Homo sapiens: one gene and its partner. The protein of the gene in region 1 interacts with the protein of each later gene in a pairwise test. Each region holds a gene or a part of one and is shown in the gene's direction. Other genes may lie near its edges.

What was found. Proteins that work in one complex are often made in the same cells at the same time.
Region 2: the proteins of MS4A3 (region 1) and TMEM218 interact in binary tests that used the Homo sapiens proteins (3 or more experiments, as listed by UniProt).

What each region holds. Positions count from the first base shown.
Region 1 is NC_000011.10:60,063,109-60,067,046, forward strand, and holds part of MS4A3 (membrane-spanning 4-domains subfamily A member 3), read left to right. Parts: intron 1-1,153; coding exon 1,154-1,210; intron 1,211-3,842; coding exon 3,843-3,938. UniProt on the Homo sapiens protein: Hematopoietic modulator for the G1-S cell cycle transition. Modulates the level of phosphorylation of cyclin-dependent kinase 2 (CDK2) through its direct binding to cyclin-dependent kinase inhibitor 3 (CDKN3/KAP).
Region 2 is NC_000011.10:125,097,738-125,101,675, reverse strand, and holds part of TMEM218 (transmembrane protein 218), read left to right. Parts: intron 1-154; coding exon of another isoform or gene 155-232; intron 233-372; coding exon 373-475; intron 476-3,935; coding exon 3,936-3,938. UniProt on the Homo sapiens protein: May be involved in ciliary biogenesis or function.

The sequences.
Region 1 (3,938 bases):
TTCTGATTAAGAGAAACCACATTTGCCAAGTACAAATGAAGTCCTAAAAATTATCTTATATATAACTATATGTTACATTTATAGATACTTAAAAAATTGAATGAAAAATGGGTATTGATGAATTGCCTTGTGGTACAGCAGAGAGTCCTGGCTTGAGAGTTAAGAAATTTGTCTGCTGATTACTGTCTGAAAGTCAGAAGAATCATTTCCATTATCTGGGTCAACATTCAATCAGAAGAAATAGGGGTGATTTTAAAATGTATTCATTCAGTTTTGATTATTTATTACTTCCCTGATGGTTCATTTTTAAAAAGTGAATGATATGTTTGTTGGCCATTTGTATATCTTCTTTTGAGAATTGTCTATTCATGTCCTTAGCCCATTTTTTGATGGGATTGTTTGTTTATTTCTTGGTGATTTGTTTGGGTTCATTGCAGATTCTGGATATTAGTCCTTTGTTAGATGTATAGATTGTGAAGATTTTCTCCCACTCTATGGGTTGTCTGTTTACTCTGCTGACTGTTCCTTTTGCCGTGCAAAAGCTCCTTAGTTTAATTAGGTCCCAGCTATTTATCTTTGATTTTATTGCATTTGTTTTTGGCTTCTTCGTCATTAAATCCTTGCATAAGCCATTATCCTAAGTGAAGTAACTCAGGAGTGGAAAATCAAACATCATATGTTCTCACTTATAAGCGGGAGCTAAGCTATGAGGATGCAAAGGCATAAGAATGACACAATGGACTTTGGGGACTCAGGGGGAAAGGTGGGAAGGAGGTGAGGGATAAAAGGCTACAAATTGTGTGCAGTGTATACTGTTTGGGTGATGGGTGCACCAAAATCTCACAAATTACCACTAAAGAACTTATCCATGTAACCAAACACCACCTGTTCCCCAATAACGTATGGAAATAAAAAAAATTTAAAAAATAAAATGAATAAAACTAATTGCATGGAAAGACTAAATAAATAAATAAATAAATAAATAAATAAATAAAGTGAGCAGCATCAAGTACAATTCTGTGTCCTAGGATGTGAATTTAAAAGGGAGGTTTGTATGACTATTGCTGGATATCTGCTAATTGAGGGAGGACCAAGAAGAAAATGGTTGAGACTTAATATTCCTTTATCTGTTTTCCTTCCTATTTTCAAACAGTTCTGTAGTTCAGGAACCTTGTCTGTTGTAGCAGGGATAAAACCCACAAGAACATGGGTAAGTAGCACTTCCTCTTTTTCTATGATCAGAGGAGTAGAAATATATTATTCATAAACAGTAGGACAGTAAGTGTCCATGAATACAACTGAGACACTGAGTATCATTTAATGCACAAAATATTAGTTTTCTTAACGTGTTCAGATGGTAGGTCAGCAGATCACATACATTGTGAGGATGCATTCCTGGGATGCTTGCTCTTAATATTGGTGAACTTGAAGCTTAGAAAAAGTCTTCTTGATTTTTATGTGTTGTCAAGTTTGACCAATTCTAATTATTTGGAAGTAAGAACTCCCACCACTAACTAGTTTGACAACTGAAAGTCCAAACTTCTATTCTAAACAACTGCTAAGTCTCTATGATGTGTTCTTAGTGAGTCACGTAGCCACTGATACTCCACTTTCCTACTCCATTCATTCACTTTCCCTCCTCCATGGATAGCTATTTTACCATTTTATTGTATCCTCAAACACCAATCCCACTTCTGTCATCCTTACTCTCTGCTGATGATTTTTCTGTCTCTTCTGAGAAAACTGAAGCCATTAGAAGGGAATTTTCAGACCTCCACTACTAATGGACTAGATCTGTACCAATGTATTTTTTTCTTCTAGCCTCTTACCATAGGAAAATTTTGTGATTTTCTTTAAAGCTGATCTCCCTACTTGAGTATAAGATTCCATTCTTTTTTTCCCCACACAAGTGCATCACTTTAATTTTTGTCTCTCTGCTATATATATATTTTTCGAGTCTCACTCTGTCACCCAGATGGGAGTGCAGTGGTGTGGTCACAGCTCACTACAGCCTCCACCTTCCAGGGCTCATGCAATCCTCCCACCTCAGCCTCTCACATAGCTGGGACTACAGGTGTGTGCCACCATCCCTGGCTAATTTTTGTCTTTTTTTTTTTTTTTTTTGTAGAGACAGGATCTTGCCATGTTGCCCAGGCTGGTCTCAAAATCTTGGGCTCAAGCAGTCCTCCTGCCTCAGCCTCCCAAAAGGCTGGGGTTACAGGCGTGAGTTACCTTGCCCCATCTCTAATCAGCATGTAAACATCCAGTTACTGTTCTCAACTTAAAAACAAAACAAAACAAAACAAAACAAGAAAACCTTGACATTATTTCTCCCTGCTAGGGACAGGCACAATTTGTATTTTCCTTCTGTAGCTAAACTCCTTCAAAGGAATCATCATGTTCTTTCTCTGATTTCCATCTACCGGTTTGAATCAAACCCACTTCAATAAGACTTTATTTTATTCCCTACTATCCTTCTGTAACTGCTGTCTTTAAGATCACTGAAAACTTCCACCCTGCTAAAACAACGGTCAACTCTTGTTCCTCATCTAACTTAAGCTATGAGTAGCATTTAGCATAGTTAGTCGCCCACTCCTCCTTCCAGGAATTTCCTCACTTGGCTTCCAGCATACATTGCTTGGCTGGTTTTCCTCCCATCTTTTGCTTTCTCCATCTCAGTCTCCTTTCCTGGTTCCTCTCCTTGTCTCTGACCTTTTAATGTTCTGGTGCCCCAGAGCTGAATTCTTTGCCACCTGCTCTTCTCAATCTATACGTACTTCTTCTGTGATCTCACACATTCTTATGACTTCAAGTAATATCTGTATGCCCACAACCCTGAAATAAGTATTTCCAGCCCAGGTGTCTCTCCTGATCATCAGACTGGCATGTAAAGATCCAAAGCTCAACTCCCAGTCTTCTTCCTCAAACCTTCTCCTCATGTCAGCTGATGGGAATGTCATCCTTCCAGATTCCCAGACCAAACACCTTAGAATAACCAAGAGTCTTCTTTCTTTCACAATCCTGAATCCTATTTATCAGCAAATAATGTTGGCTCTACTTTCAAGCTATTATTATATCCAGTTTTGACCTTTTCTTATCTTTCTATTGATGACATTTCATCCAATCCACCTTGTCTCTCCTAATTGGGCTTCTAGCTTTTATCGTTGAACTTCTCTTTGCCTTGCTAGAAACAGTGATCCCTTGAAACCATAAAGCCAAGTATATCATTTATTTGCTCCAAATCCTTCATTGGCTTTGTATTTTTCTTAGAGTTAGAAACAAGTTCCTTTTCATGATCTGCAGAGCCCCACATGATTTGGCTCTCTGTTAACTTTCCTTCTTCTTCATTTCCTAGTATTGACTACGTGCCTCCAACGCCCTTGACCCCTTTGCTGCCCCAGAAGATTCTGGCCTCAGGATTTTGAGTGTTTCCCTAATTTCAAGGATATTCCCCCAGATATCCTCCTGGCTGGCACCCACAGCTCTTTCATGCCTCTCCCCAGTGTCATTTCTATTTAATATCATGAACCCCCACTCCTCTCTTTGGATTCCCAGATTCTCCTTATCCCATTCTGTTAGCCCCTAGTACTTAATCACTTTCAAAAATATTATGTAATTTACCTATAGTATGTTTACTTTTTTCTTTGTTTTTATTGCTAGAATATAAGCTCCATGGAGGGTGGGGGACAGAAATCTTTCTTTGGTCATTGATGTTAGCCTCGCATCTAGGATATCAGTGGGTGTGTAAACAATATTCAATCAATGTTTGTTTCAATGAATTGTTGCCAAAGGAATGAAGTACGTGCTGCATATATTAATTGAAAATTCTTATTCTTTTTTAGATACAGAACAGTTTTGGAATGAACATTGCCAGTGCTACAATTGCACTAGTGGGGACTGCTTTTCTCTCACTAAATATAGCAGTTAATATCCAGTCA
Region 2 (3,938 bases), about 65 Mb from region 1:
GACAGTGTTAGTATGAAGCAGAGAGTTGTAGAATTTTCTAAAGTATTCTGTTCTAAAAACAACAGAAGTGGAGGTGGAGAGGGGATGCTTTGGTTTTTCTTGATTATGACTTTGGGCAGAAGTAAAAATAAAAACTACACATTTCCATTCTTAGGAATTGGGAATTACCAAGAATAAATGGGAATGCACCCAGCTGGTACCTGTCTAGGAAGAAGGACTTTGGGATGAAGAGGTTGTTGACAGCAGGCCTCTGGACATTGTTAAGGGACTGAAACATAGAATATTGGCTCCAAGGAAGAGACTGTCCAGACCTAACTGATCAAAGAAGAAATTATAGACAGTGCTTTTAATAATTTGTCTTTTTAACCCCAGGTTCTCTGTCATTTTTTTATTCTTCGGTGCTGTGATCATCACATCAGTTCTGTTGCTTTTCCCGCGAGCTGGTGAATTCCCAGCCCCAGAAGTGGAAGTTAAGGTAAAGCTGTTGCTTTCGTTTTGCCTCCTGAGCTGTGATTCTTATTTCTCTTGGTCTGCACATCCGTCCTGCCCTTGATGTTCCCTGACATCGGGTTGCCTGAGATGTCAGAATTGTAAAGTTCAACCAATGACGGGGAAAGTTCAGAGGGAGTTTTAAGTTCCCCTGCCCCTTCACTCAGGAAAAGAATCTTACTCTGAATTCCATCTACAACCCCACCAGGCAGTTATTTGCCTGATTTGGTCTCATCTTCAGTTTGCATCAAGTTGAAAACAGCCTGTTGGAAAGCCACCTCGTACCATGGGGACAGAAAAAAAAGAAAATGAAATAGGGATAGTCACAGGCCTGCACCCGAGATGAAGTGTTCCCATTCCTGGCAGCCTGGGCTCCTAACTGCAGATCCTGGGCTGAAATTGATGTGGTGCCCTGAGGGTGCTGAGGACATGCTTCTCCAACTGCATGTGCTAGAATTTTCCCAACAGTCTTCTGGGAGTTCTTTGGTCCTCATACCTGGGACCATACCTGCCAGCACCCATGTCTTTAAATGGATTTTTATCATCTCTCTCAGAATCCTTCTCTGGAGTTCTTTACCATGGCTTTACCATGCATGGCTGGTCTCAGACCCATGGGATCTTGACAATGACATTGACCTTTTCTGTCCCATTACTCCTTCTCACAGCTTTCCTCTCAACCTTCATTTTGATGTTTTAAGTGATAGTCATGAAAATAGCTAACATTCTTTAAGGGATTTCCGTGTGCCAGGTCCTGTGCCAAACACTTTGTTTGCACTGTCTCATTTAAACCTCAGGACAGCCCTAAGTAGTATGACATAGGTACCATTATTATCCCCATTTTATAGGTAAGAACACTGAGTCTGTCAGAGGTTAAGGTAACTTGCCCAAGGTCACATAGCAAGAGGCAGAACAGGGATTCAAGCTGAGGTCCGTCTTCAAAATCTTCAGTGTTGAGAACTTAACAGAATATTCAGGGCAGTCCCAGAGAGCTCATGGGTTAGCATTTTGACACTAGACAACAACAGTACACAAGATTATATGTGTAACTTTTGAACTAAAATTGACACTGTAGGATTAACTATGGCAAGAGGAAGGAAATTAAACTCCAAGGGAAATAGTACTTTACCACACACACTTAAGGAATTATTTCCATGGACACAAGTTTGTTGTCAGTATTTGGAAAACACTCTGGAGGTGTGGGTACCACATGTGTGAGCCAGGGGCAAATTCACACCTCACTTATCTTTTTTTTTTTTTTTTTTTTTGAGACAGTCTCGCTCTGTCGGCCAGGCTGGAGTGCAGTGGCATGATCTCGGCACACTGCAACCTCCGTCTCCCGGACTCAAGCAATTCTCCTGCCTCAGCCTCCCGAGTAGCTGAGATTATAGGCATGTGCCACCACACCCAGCTAATTTTTGTATTTTTGGTAGAGATAGGGTTTCACCATGTTGGCCAGGCTGGTCTCAAACTGCTGACCTCAGGTGATCCACTCGCCTCAGCCTCCCAAAGTGCTGGGATTACAGACGTGAGCCACCGCACCCAGCTGCTTTCCTTGTCTTTTAAGGGGGAGAGTGATGTGGGCTGCCACATTTCTGGATGCTGCAGATGTAAACATCGGGAGAAGGGCACAGAGCAAACACATTTTTGAAATCAATCCCTCGATTGTCTGTCATATGAGTTTCAGACCCAGGAGACAAGAATGGGGTTTGAGCAAAATACTTTTGTCAGCATGGCCGGCAGAATTGGAGTTCTCATTTTCAGGTTTTGAGAGCGGGCCTCTGCAGCAGCCTGGCTCAATGCTGTATCAATAATACATGGCCTGGGCCTTCTGCACCCAAGGCCTGCTAATTGGCTAATTAAAAAGTGAAACGTGTCGAACGAGCAAACATGTGGCCCGCAAGAGACTTGTTCAGTACCGGAGCCAAGGTCAAAGTTATGTTAAAGCTGTTTTATCAAACTGACCTTTGTTGTAAGTTGACTGTTGGGGTAATCTCTGGAGCAGCTGAGGTGTCTTTGGACCTCAGTGATCCTACTAGGGCTCGGGTCTGAGAGATACTTTGTGTATGGCCGCTGTGTTAGTTTTCTGTTGCTGCTGTAACAAATTATGTGAACTAATGGCTCCCAACACAGATGTATTATCTTACAGTTCTGTAGGTTAGAGTCCAACATCAGTCTCACTGGGCTAAAACCAAGGGGTTGGCAGGGCAGCATTCCTTTCCAGAAGTTCTAGGGGAGAATCCATTTCCTTATCCTTTCCAGCTTCTAGAGGCTGCTCGTATTCCTTGGCTGACAGCCCCCTTCCTCCATCTTCAGAGCCAGTGACATCACACCTCACTGATGCTTCCATCCTCACCTCTCTTGCTCTGACCCTCTCTCCCACCTCCCTATTCAACTTAGAAGGATCCTGTGATTAGATTGGGTCCACCTGGATTGGATAATCCAGATTAATACCCCTTGTTTTAAGGGCAGCTGATTGGCAATCTTAATTCTCCTTTAACATATAATCTAACATATTCACAATTTCTGGGGATTAGGATGTGGATATCTTTGGGCCATTATTCTGTCTGCCACAATTGCCTTTCAGCTGTTTTGGATTCTCCTAGGTACTGGGATTTCAAAGTTTCTGTGAAGTCAGTCAGCCACTTGGTTGGTGGTGTTGCTCCATTAGGTCTATAGATTAAATTGCTTTTTCCTGCCCAAATTTAAGCACCACCATTTGGATCTGGGGAGAGTGGAGCTCTGGAAGGGGTCAGTGGACAAGTGGGTAGAGCCAACACCAATTATAGGGTTTTGTCAGCAAAGACCAACATCTTTGGGGCCTCAAGTGTAAGGCCAGGCAGCCCACTGTCTGCTTTGGGGCAAGTTACCTATCCTTTTAGTGTTTTAGTATCTCAGGTAAATGGTCATTTTCCCTGCCCCGTGGCATGGGACTCTTCCGCTGATAGCTTTAAAGAGTCACCTTTCATTTTGAAAATGAACCCTCCTGAAATGGCAATGGATTGATGATTTTGGGGGTTGGGTCTTAGATACATGGGAGTTTATTATACTATTGCATTTTTATGTATGTTTAAAATTCTCCGTAATAAAATGTATTTTAGCAACAACAAAAATGAGCCTTTCTAGGACCATGCAAAAGCTTCTCATTAACTCTTTCAGGTAACAGATTTCAGAATATAAAAGAATTCATCCAGGGACTTCAAAGTGTTTACCAACATCCTAAATTGAGCCATTTGTTCCCTGTCCCTCATTAATCCCTTCTTGTGTCTCCTGCTCAGGGAGTTGAGGAAAAGATTCTTTTTTCTCATGTACAGAGGAGACTCAGGGCAGGATGTTACTGGAAGTTATACACATGAACTAACTCTTGGCCCACTCATCATGGAGTTCAGGTTAACCCAGCCAGGGTGTCTAACTGGTAGTAATTTCATTTTGATGTTTTCTTTCTCCAGATT